Linked DNA regions of Homo sapiens: region 2 is linked to region 1. Evidence: fine-mapped expression QTL. Tissue or cell type: T cells. Region 1 holds a variant in brackets; the other region holds the start of a gene. All regions are shown on one strand. Distances are from middle to middle.

Region 1 (6,055 bases):
CTATCCACTCCCCAAGAAACAGTCTCTACCTTAATAATAAACATGATAGTTCCTTATGCTGTTGAGAAGTTTTGTAGTTTAGGGCTGGGAGCCATGGCTCACGCCTGTAATCCCTGTGCTCTGGGAGGCCAAGGTAAGAGGATCACTTGAGCCCAGGAGTTCGAGACCAGCTGGGGCAACATAGCAATACCTGGTCCCTAAAAAAAAAAACGAGCAGAGATGGTGGTGTGCACCTGTGGTCGTAGCTACTTGGGAGTTTGAGGCGGGAGTATCACTTGAGCTGAGGAGTTGGAGGCTGCAGTGAGCCATGATCGCACCACTACACTCCAGCCTGGGTGATGGGGTGAGACCCTGTCTCTAAAAAAAGGAAAAGCAAGAAATTGTGTAGTTCAGCAAGTGCCTTTAGTTAGTTCCCCTGTTTATCCTTGACTGGGTTCTGGGAGAAGGTAAAAGACCCAGCGTCTCTGTCTTACAGATAGGGGAACCGAGTGAGTGAATGCGGATCCAGGATTTGGGCCCTGGTCTTGTCACTCCCAAGTCTGGGGCCCTTGATGCTGCACAGCCCTGGTAGGGCCTGAGGCTCACAGAGGAAGAGAGCAGCAGCTCACACCTGCCACCCACCCACCTGCGGCACAGAAGCTGAAGTTACTAGGAAGCAGGGAACACCACAGCCTGCCTGGCCATATTTTACAGATTCTAGCCAGGCCCTGACTCCTGCCTTCAATTCCCTGCCCTGTGGAAGGGCCATGGGGGCCAGAGGTGGAGGGGCTCAGAAGGACCTCGGAGAAGAGGTGCTGGGAGCAGATAGCAGGTCTTTGGAGACACACACACACACACACACACACACACACACACACACACCCTTCTCAGGGGAGAAATTCAAACCCCTCAGCCTTTGTCAGTTCCACAAAAGCGTGGCTGCAGCTCTTTTTGCCCCGGCACCCTATCCCCGAGGGGTGGGGTTTGAGGAGGAAGCACCTCCACGTTGTTCCCCCTGCCCAGGATGGGCAGCAAGTGGGCAGGGCATGCTGTTGGCAGGGGCTGCTTCTGCCCCCCACAGGGGAAGCCAGCACCACGCTCTGGGTTTGGGGGCTCCTGTCCCTGGCCTGTGCCCCCTGCTTCCCAGGGTCATAGCCTGCTGGGTTCCCGGGGGGGCCTCTTGGGAGATGAAAATGGCGGTCACTCTTCATTAGGGCCTCACTGAGGGCCAGAGCGTGTCCGTGTGTGTATGTGTGTGTGTGTGCGTGTGCACGCATGCACGCGTGTATGTGTGTGTGTGTGTGTGCAAGCATGCACGCATGTATGCGTGTATGCCTGACTTTGTTTAATCCTTACAGCCACCTGATGAAAGAGGGGCTCTTATTATCCCCATCATACAGATAGGGAAACTGAGGTTTACAGAGGCTGCCCTGCTTGTGCAGAGCCCAGGGACAGGGGCAGACATCAAGTCCCATGACCTGGCCCTGGAGCCCGTTGCTCTGAACAGTGCTGATGGCACAGGCACCGAGCCCTGTGCTCCCACCCTGCAGGATGCACCAGTCAGCAGCAAGTAGGATGGGCTTGTTGGAATGCAGATTCCTAGGCCCCACCCAAGGGACTTCTGCTTGGCAGCTCTGGGTGAGGCCCAAGAATCTGCATTTTGACTCCCCCGTGATTCTGATAAGGACTTTTGGCCCCACTTTAAGAAGCTTAGAGATGGGTCCATGGGCAGGAGTGTACCGACCCTGTTTGTATGCTCTGAGGGGTGCCACATTAGGGTAGGGCTTTGCACTAAGGGCACGGCTCTGTTCCCCTGAGGTGGGGGTCCTCGGGGGTTGGGGGCTGAGGGCAGGATAGGCAGGGGAGGAAAGGGTACTGCCCTTTTTGCAGGCCTGTTCTGTCTCCCTTCCCACCGCCCACCAGCTGTGTGGTCTGAGACTGGCCTCAGACTGTCTTTCCTCTCATAGCTTTGCTTCCTCACCAGTAAAATGAGGACAGCAAACCCAGTTGCCTCAAGCTGGGGGCTGGGCCTGATGCTTTGAGGCTTGGAAGGGCTGAGCCGGCCAGGCTGGAGCAGTGACGGGTTCTGGTTCCTGTGGCTGCCGTGGGGGCAGAGCTGGAGAGAGCTGCCTGCGGCTAGCAGGAAGGGAAGGGGGAGCCTCTTCTGCTCACCCAGCTTCACCCCACGGGGTCAGCTGGCTTCTCTCCATGCCCCTTCTGGGCCTGCCTTGCCCTTCCCTGTCTCTGGGAAGCTGCCCAGGCTATTTCAGCTTTATTTATTTTCCCATCTCTATATTGGTCTCCAAAATGGCACTTTGGGTGTCTGGGACACCTGGAGCCTCCCCTGTGGAGGAGGTAACCACAGAACTGTCCAGAAATGACCCTCTCGGTGGTCCTGCCCAGGCCTGGCTGAGGCAGGGGGCTGGCAGCTGGACCCCCAGCCCCCCTTCTCACTTGCTGCTCCTATCCCACCCCCAGGCTGAGCAGAGGCAGTGGCTTTGGGGTGGGACTGAGCTGGAGGTGTCTGTATGGCCCTGAGCCCAGGCAGAAGTGCCAAGTGCCAGTAGACTGTTCTTCCATTTTTTCCTTCATCAACTCACCTTGATGGGGTCATGGGAAATTACAGGGGGGTTTCT[A/G]TCCTCCTCGGATCTTGTAAGCAGCACGGGTGGTAGAGTATCACTCTTACCCGAACTAGCTGGCCTGAGATTGAATCTCGCATCTGCTGCCACCAGCTGTGTGACCTTGGGCAAGTTGCTTAACCTCTGTGCACAGTGCCTTCGTCTGAATAATGTGGATTACCTCTCTCCAGAGGGTGGTGTGAGATAGGAGGATATGTTAAGCATTTAAAGATTCCTGACGTGGAGTCAGCATTCAGTGTTTGCTACTACTGTTCTCCCGGAAAGGAGAGGAAATGGAACTTGGACATGAAGAAGCTGGGAAATACACACAGCAACCTTTTGACCATGACTTCCAGCCCCGGCCCTTTCCATCAGCTCTCCTCTCCATCTGTGTGTGTCTAATTTTTTTTTTAAATTTGTATTTTTTTGAGACAGGGTCTCTCTCTGTCTCCCAGGCTGGAATGCAGTGGCGTGATCTTGGCTCATTGCAGCCTTGACTTCCCAGACTCAAGCGATTTTCTCGCCTCCACCTCCTGAATAGCTGGGACTACAGGCGTGCATCACCATGCCCGGCTAATTTTTGTATTTTTAGTAGAGACAGGGTTTCGTCATGTTGCCCAGGCTTGTTTCAAACTCCTGACCTCAAGTGATCTGCCCACCTCAGCCTCCCAAAGTGCTGGGATTACAGGTGTCAGCCACCGCGCCCTGCCTAAATTTTAAAAACTAGTGTTTCTTTTTTGTTAGAAGGGGATGGGTTACAAAGTATGTTGGCCCAACACATGGTAGGCACATAATAGTGGAAATTGTATTTCGCTCAATAAATTTTGTATTTTTTTAGAGATTTTTATTAATTTTTTTTTTTTTTAAATAGAGATGGGGTACTATGTTCCCAGGCTGGTCTCGAACTCCTGGGCTCGAGTGATCCACCTGTCTTGGCCTCCTAGACTGCTGGGATTACAGACATGAGCCATTTTGTTTTTTAAGTCCAGCCTAATTTTTGTGTTTTTTTTTTAGACGGAGTTTTACTCTGTCGCCCAGCCTGGAGTACAGTGTCACCATCTCAGCTCACTGCAACCTCCGGCTCCCAGGTTCAAGGAATTCTCCTGCCTCAGCCTCCCAAGTAGCTGGGATTACGCCCACCACGCCCGGCTAACTTTTTTTGTATTTTTTTTAGTAGAGATGGGGTTTCAGCATGTTAGGCTGGTCATGAACTCCTGACCTCAGGTGATCCACCCACCTCTGCCTCCCAAAGTGGTGGGATTACAGGCGTGAGCCACCGTGCCTGGCATAATTTTTGTTTTTAAGTAATGATCCTTCTTCTTATATTGGGTCATCAAGGCAGTTGTTTTCCCAATTATGCTGCTTTGTTTGGAGATTACGTGTCTGCATTCAATTCATTCATGATCCAACAAATGTTGATCTGCACCTCCTGTCTGCTGGGATGAGAAGCAAGATAGATCCAGGGAGAACAACTAAGAACTGACAGAAAAATTAGAGTTTCACGGATGGTGGTTGTTTGGGTGTCAGGAGCCTCAGATGTCAGTCAGTCCTGGGCCTGACAGCAGAGTTTCCAAAATGGGAGCCCAGGTATCTCCCAGGAGTGGGGTCCTCTGGGAGCCCAGGCATCTCCCAGAAGTGGGGTCCTCTGACCGAAGCGCTGAGTTGCATCCTGGCCTGAGCGACAACTGGGTTGTGACCTTGGGCAGGTCCCTTCCTCCACAGGGACCCCCACAGCACCCTGGTGAGCCATCCTAGACAACAGGGGCAAGCACTCCTGCCAGGGCAAGAAGGGAGCCCTGAAGAGGGGCTCTGGGCTGGGCCCTCCCTACACCCCTGGCCCCCCACCCTTCACTTCTGCCACCCCTTCCATACCCAAAGACCTTTCAAAGAGCCTCCCTGTCTTGATTATCCATAGTCAGGGTCTGAAGGTGCTTTAAAATGGTCACAGACTCCAAATGGGAGGGATTTTAGAGATCAGCTAGCCAGCTCCCTTCAGGGGACCCAGAGAGGGGAACTGACTTGCTTAGAAACACACAGCAAGGTGGTGCTGATCCCAGGCTCCCTCCCTTCTCAGCCCCTACCCCTCACCCCTACCCTCTGTGGGCCTCCTATGTTAGCAGTGAAATGAATGATCCTTCCCCAACAGGGAGGGGGAGGCAGAAGCAGTTCCCGATCCTGGGAACCTGCTGATGTCATTGCAGCGTCGCCATGGCGATTATTCCCCTGGATTAGGGGCCTGACCCTTGCAAAGCCAGGAAGCAGGGGACGGAGTGGGGGACTGGCACTCGTTCAGCACTTCATTGCTGACAGAGCACTTTCACACTGGCCCTCCACAGTGCGCTGCTGCTTTAGAGCCACTGTCTGTATCGTGGGTTGGAGTGACTGGCGTTATGGTCCCCATTTTACAGATGTGGGAACTGAGTCTTGAGATGTGAAGTCGTTGGCCCAAGATCACTCAGAAGTGGGAGACTGAGCCTGCGTTAGTGCTAGCTCCGCCTGGCTTTGTGCCCAGACTTGGTGATAAGAAGCCCCCTCCCCATATTATACCTGATTTCTGTCACAACTCTTTTACAGATGAAGAAACCGAGGCCAGGGGCTTGAGATGCAGGGCTTCTGTATCTGGAGCTACATTTCTCTGCCTCTGAGTGCCCTACCTTCCCCGATGCCCGCTTCCCAAAGGGCCTCCCACTAAGAGTCACCGTGCTGGCCCAGGGCTTCCAGGACTGAGGAAGAGCTGGTGCTAGGCAGGTTCTGGACTCTTGGGGTGGGTTGGTGCCTCTATCCACTGCATTCACTTCTGAACTAATGGGGAACAGCACATCCAAGCCCTTCTTGTCTGGATCAGAACAGAGAAGGAGAGGGAACCACATGGATGAGTGACTGGGGGCTTCAGGAGACAAACAAGGACTCTGACCCCCACAGGCATGTGCAGAGGACCTGACAGGTGTGGCCGTGGCTGCATGCGCATGCGCAGTCGCTCCAGTCCAAGCACAGCTCGGTGCTGCTGCCAGATGATTCCCTGCCAGGGAACTGCCTGGGTTTGTGTCCTGGGCTGACCTGTGTCCAGGACAGTGCAGCCCCCGTGGAGGAAATCCAAGCAGCTGGTGGGGTCTGGAACAGATGGCTGATGAGGTGGACAGTGAAGTCTCTGGAAGCCAAGGAATAGTTTCCTGTTCCATGAGTTTTCTCAGCCTCATTCTGTTCTTCAAAACCCTCAGGGGAGGACAAGCTGTTCCTCATATTTCAATTCCTTTCGTGCCAGGGAAGTCCTTTCTGATGTCTGACTTGAGTCCCTCTAGTACTGTGGTGGGGTGGAAGGGTTCTTCCCTGGAGCTTGGAGACCTGCTGAGATGCTGTCTGACCCCCGCTGCTTTCCTCCCCTCCTATGGCGGTGGCCTCTGAAGCCATCCCGGCAGGCTCCCAGAATCCGCGGGGCCTGTCAAAGGCGCACTGATGGA
Region 2 (6,055 bases), 31 kb after region 1:
GGGACCTGGATAAAGCTGTCTGTAAGGTGGCCTGGCAACCCAAAGCACTATTCACAGTGCCTTCTGAATGTAATCTTTAATACACATCCCCTTTCTTCCTTCTTCCTCACAACCCTGTGAGAGAAGTAACTACTTATAGAGGGGCTCACTGAAACCCAGAAAGGCAAAGCAGATTGGTGGCAGTCACAGCTAGTGGCAGAGTGGGGCCTGAGACCCCCATGTGATGCTCACAGTCTGGTGCTGTGCCACCCGGCCATGGCAGGCCGCGTGCCTGTGTCTGTGGCAGCTCTTAGATGTGTGTCTCCTGGGCTCCATGTTTTGCTCCAGGTGCCCAGGGTCTGTGACTGGCCAGAAGGCCAGGCGGCCTCCCCTCTTGCTCATTGGGCTTGGGAAGAGGACAGTGGTAGAGAGGGGAATCTGGCCCTGCTCAGTGCTGCCAATCAGCCTCAGGTCCAGCTGCTTGAGGGGCATTTCTCTCTTGGGGCTCAGAACTAAGGAATTCTCCAGCCTCAGAATCACAGCAGGGTGGAGAGGAGGAGGGCTCTCCTGAGCTGAGCATTTGTAATCTGGAGAATGACATGGCCAGAGTCAGCTGAGCTGGGGCAATGTGGGGAGCATCCAAGGCTGCCCTGGGTGGTATAATTAGAGACAGCACTGACACCTGCTCCCCTCCAGGGGTGCAGGCAGCCCAATACTTTCCCAATAGAAGGGAATTAGTTGGCAAAGCTTGCCTCATGTCGGCCTGCCCCACTCCCCGGGAGGCTTCATTCACCTTCAGATCTATTTGATGGAACAGTGCTTTGGGGGACATTGCTGCCAAGTCTCCACTCCCTGCTCACAGAAAGCTCTGCCTCCTGGAAATGGGCCAATGGGAGGAGTTTCTGGATTTCCTTCTGGCAGTGGCCTAAGTTCCTGAGGTCTTGCATTATGAGGGGGTTACCAATATATCTTAACCCCAGGCCTTTAAAAAAAATATTATTTGGGGTGGGGGCCAAGGAGACTAGGCCTCAGAGACGTCCTAGGGAATGATTTAATTTAATAGAAAATAATTGAGGCTTATAAAAAGGCACAAAAATCCTGGCTAACACAGTGAAACCCCGTCTATACTAAAAATACAAAAAATAAGCTGGGCGCGGTGGCGGGTGCCTGTAGTCCCAGCTACTCGGGAGGCTGAGGCAGGAGAATGGCGTGAACCCGGGAGGCAGAGCTTGCACTGAGCTGAGATCGTGCCACTGCACTCCAGCCTGGGTGACAGAGCAAGACTCCGTCTAAGAATAAATAAATAAATAAATAAATAAATAAATAAATAAATAAATAAAAAGAATAAAATAATTCTCTTTTCCCCCTCAGAAGAAACCACTTGAATTTTTTAAATTTCAGGGATACCCCTGGGGAATTCTTCAGTGTCCTCTCTGTGTACAACACTATGCTGAGCTTTTGGAAGAGGATACCAAAGAAAACAAAACTAGGCCGGGTGCGGTGGTTCACACCTGCAATCCCAGCACTTTGGGAGGCTGAGGTGGGAGGATCGCTTGAGTCCAGGAGTTTGAGACCAGCCTGGGCAAAATGGCAAGACCCCGTCTCTATAAAAAAAGAAAGAAGGAAAACAAAACAGTGGGTAATGACTGCAAAGAGACGAAGGAGTGGGTGGAGGAGGGGTCTCTGGTGCTCGTCCTGTAGGTGGATCGATGTGAAAGCAGTCCACTGCAAGCTGAGCAGTGCACGTGGGGTGTAGGGGCCTTCCGGACCAACAGGGGGAGCAGTGTGGCGCAAGAGGAAGAATATGGACTTTGGTGTCAGCATGCCTAGTTTTGAATCCTGGTCTCTGACATTTTTAATTAATTAATTAATTATTTTGAGACGGAGTTTCACTCTTGTTGCCCAGGCTGGAGTGCAATGGCACAATCTCAGCTCACTGCAACCTCCACCTCCCAGGTTCAAGCGATTCTCCTGCCTCAGCCTCCTGAGTAGCTGGGATTACAGGCATGTGCCACCATGCCCAGCTAATTTTGTATTTTTAGTAGAGCTGGAGTTTCTCCATGTTGGTCAGGCTGGTCTTGAACTCCTGACCTCAGGTGATTCACCTACCTCAGCCTCCCAAAGTGTTGGGATTACAGGCATGAGCCACCACACCCAGCCTTTTACTTTTTATTTTATTTATTAATTTATTTATTTTTGAGACGGAGTCTCGCTCTGTCACCCAGGCTGGAGTGCAATGGCACGGTCTCAGCTCACTGCGACCTCTGCCTGCCGGGTTCAAGCAATTCTTTAGCCTCAGCCTCTTGAATAGCTGGGATAACAGGCACCTGCCACCACGCCCGGCTAATTTTTATTTTTATTTTTTTTTTGAGACAGAATCTTGCTCTGTAGCCCAGGCTGGGGTGCAGTGGCGCGATCTCAGCTCTGCCTCCCGGGTTCAAGCAATTCTCTGCCTCAGCCTCCCAAGTAGCTGGGATTACAGGCATGCACCACCAAGCCTGGCTAACTTTTGTATTTTTAGTAGAGACAGGGTTTCACCATCTTGGCCAGGCTGGTCTTGAACTCCTGACCTTGTGATCCACCTGCCTCGGCCTCCCAAAGTGCTGGGATTATAGGCATGAGCCACTGCGCCCGGCTGGTCTCTGACACATCTAAGCTATGAACCATTAGGGTAAGTTTCTGACCATCTCTGAGCCCCATCTATGAAAGACTCATAGGGAGGTTGAAATTGCACCACATGTACGATATCTGGCCCAGTGTAGGAAATGTATAAATGTTAGCTTCATCCCTCAGGGAAGCCCACTGAGATCCACACGAAACTTTTGTCTGTGTCTCCCCATAATGTGACCTTTAGAAGTTGCCAATGGCCCACCCAATACCCAACCATGATTTTTCTGAGATAATCTGCCCGAGGTGTGTGAGAGGAAACGCGAAGAAGGCAGTCAGGAGGATTCACTCTTGGGGGAGCTGGGTAGGATCCTATCTCCTCCTACATCCAGAGCATGCAGGCTCCATTTAGATACAAAGGGGTGGGATTGGGTTCCTGGGGAGAAATTGAGCCCCTTTGATTCTGCGGTTCTGTGGGTCTAAATCTGGCATCTCCTTGGCTATCCACCCCCAGGCTTTGTGATTGGTTGGCTGTGGTTGGTGGGGGGGCAGGAAGCTGCTGGTGGAGCTGCAGCATCCTTCAGTCTCAGGCCCCTGGGAGGGGGAGGGGAAAGAACCAGGGCTGAGCTGTGGAGTGAAGGGGAGCCATTTCTCTCCACCGACTGCAACCTCCGTGCTCACAGCTCACGGTTCACCAGAATCCAGGGGCTTGGTCGGCCTAGGAATCCACAATGCTGGATATTTTCATCCTGATGTTCTTTGCCATCATAGGCCTGGTCATTCTGTCCTACATTATCTATCTGCTCTAGTGGCCTGGAGCTGCGGCCGGAGCCTGCTGGAGAACAGCTCAGAAGGAAGGATGGAGATGAATGGCCGAGTGCCCTGCTTGCTGACGCACCGGTGGATTTTTGCTTCTGCTGTTATCTCGGGTATTGATTCCAAAAAAAAAAGAAAAGAAAAAAAGAAAGAGTTTGCTTTCCTATTTTTTTTCTTAGACCACTCTGAAAAGAATAAGAAATGCCAGCTTCTTTCTTTGGGACCTAATTTAAAATAAGACTTTAAAAATTACAAATAAAATCCACAATGTAAACGATTTTTAGGCAGAACGGGTTGGGAATGATGGATGTGGTGGGGAGGGACTATTATTTCCTAATTTCTTCTTCAAGTTAGGTGCTCAAACTCAAGTTGTCTATTTTCTTCTGGTAATTAAAGGTAAAACACATCTTTGCATGTCAGCATACTTGCAATATAGTTGTTTACAACTATGCTTGTATAATTGCATTACTTAATGATTGACTCATTCTTATTTGAGGGTGAGACGGCAAATAAATTTTACTTGGGGTGGGGTTTTCGGGGAGATGTCCAACTGTGGGATATGGTGGAGAGGAGGGAGGAACTCCTGGTACTTTGCAGTTGTCCCCATCTGAGACTTTTTATTTCTGGGTTTCTTACAGCTCCTGGTCTCTCCAGTCCAACAAGAGGCCTCTCATCCACAGAAGCAGTCCTACTGCCCAGCAGACCTCTTTCAGAGCCTTCCAGACATGGCTGACCCCTGGCAAGCAAGGGGCTTTTTGAGCTGAGAGGCACTTGGCTGGGACTTCAGGAATTCATGGACAGGGCTGGCAGATACTGCATATGTTTGAGCTGTAGATGGGATTGAGAACAGAAAGTTGAAATGGAGACTTATTAAAGTTACCGTGGAGAACTGCTCAAAAATTCATTTTGAATTAAGGAAACTTAAATTCATTTTAAGTTTCCTTAGATCTAAATGCAACTGCACATTACACTCAAATATGTTCCTTCCTTCTCACACACAGGACTCCCTTGTGAAACTCAAGGGGAAGTTCAAGTTGTCCATCTTCATCTATGAAGTAGTCACTTTATCACTGTCTTTACAGATTGCACAGTCTGGGGTTTTGTGGTTTCTCTTGTCTCACTCTCCAGCCAGGAAGAACTTGTCATTTGAGTTTTTAAAATGTATCATTTCTTCCCCACCTCAAACCACTTGTATCCCAGTTTCTCATTTAAAGGGAGAAATGGTTATATAGTCCTCTCTTTGCACCTGATTGAATTATAAATGATAGAAACAAGATGGCTATACTTATTTAGGAAAAATCTCTTACCCCAAAATGAGTGTGTGTGTGTGTGTGTGTGTGCGTGTGTGTGTGTGTGTGTGTTTTAATCAAAGATCTTTTCTGGAAAAAACTTTCCACATAGTTCTCTGACCCATTAGAGTTGAAGAAACTATGTATTTTGGGATTCAGAGTAGAATTGGCCTGCAAATCTGGGGTGTTTATTCCTTTTACAAGTCTATCATAATTGTTCTACATTTAATTTTCCTTTCTTGCTTAAAAGTAAACAAGGAGAGTCAGGAGTGGTGGCTCATGCCTGTAATCCCAGCACTCTGGGAGGCCGAGGCGGATGGATCACCTGAGGTCAGGAGTTGGAGACCAGCCTGGCCAACACGGTGAAACCCCGTCTCTACTAAAAATACAAAAATTAGTCAGGCACAGTAGTGCGCGCCTGTAGTCCCAGCTACCCGGGAGGCTGAGGCCGAAGAATTGCTTGAACCCGGGAGGCAGAGGTTGTAGTGAGCCGACATCATGTCACTGCACTCCAGCCTGGGAGACATAGCGAGATTCCGTCTCAAATAAAATAAAATAAATAAATAAATAAACAAGGAGAAAGATTAGTTTTTAGTAATAACATTGTGTCCAATTTCCATGTTTTAAAACAAAAATTGAGGCATTATATGTCACAACTGAAATGGAAAAGTTGTGTTTAAAAATTATGGACAAGGCCGGGCACGGTGGCTCACGCCTGGAATCCCAGCACTTTGGGAGGCTCAGGCAGGAGGATCACTTGAGGTCGGGAGTTTGAGACCAGTCTGACCAACGTGGTGAAACCCTGTCTCTACTAAAAATACAAAAATTAGCTGGTGTGGTGGCAGGTGCCTGTAATCCCAGCTACTCAGGAGGCTGAGGCAGGAGAATCGCTTGAACCTGGGAGGCAGAGGTTGCAGTGAGCCGAGATCACACCTCTGCACTCCAGCCTAGGTGACACAGCAAGACCCCATCTCAAAAAAAAATAATAATAAAAACATAAAAATTATGGACAAGAAAAAACACTATTCTGGAAGCTTTGTTTTGGCAACAAATTATATGACCTGACCTTTCATAAGTCATTTAAACTTTAGGGCTAGGCCAGGTGCTATGGCGCATGCCTATAATCCCAGCATTTAGGGAAGTAGAAGCAGGAGGATAGCTTGAGGCCAAGAATTCCAGACCAGCCCAGGCAATATAGCGAGACCCCCGTCTCCACAAAAATAAAAAATAAAATAAAAATAAATAAATACATAAACTTTAGGTCCTCTGTTTATTCTGTCAAATGAAAGTGTTAGGCCAAGGTCGCATTATCTCTTTGGAAACTACATCGAGAACAGAATTCCCATGGAACGAACTCTTAATAG

What was found. PIP is the estimated chance that this variant, and not a neighbour inherited with it, causes the effect.
Region 2: LASP1NB starts here. The variant in region 1 is fine-mapped to the expression of LASP1NB in T cells (TOPMed, PIP 0.97).

What each region holds. Positions count from the first base shown.
Region 1 is chr17:38,891,731-38,897,785 of GRCh38, forward strand. All of the region lies in intron 3 of LASP1 (LIM and SH3 protein 1), which reads left to right. Among named protein-coding and RNA genes, the nearest start is that of MIR6779, 20 kb to the right of the region's middle. RefSeq lists enhancers at 1,170-1,743, 3,830-4,351, 4,352-4,873, 4,874-5,395. The variant A/G (reference allele first, on the strand shown) is at 2,616.
Region 2 is chr17:38,922,377-38,928,431 of GRCh38, forward strand. It overlaps LASP1NB (LASP1 neighbor), which reads left to right and starts at 3,238. Exons shown (of 2, transcript NM_001414697.1): 1 at 3,238-3,515; 2 at 4,041-6,055. The coding sequence starts at 3,318. The coding sequence ends at 3,395. RefSeq lists an enhancer at 1-233.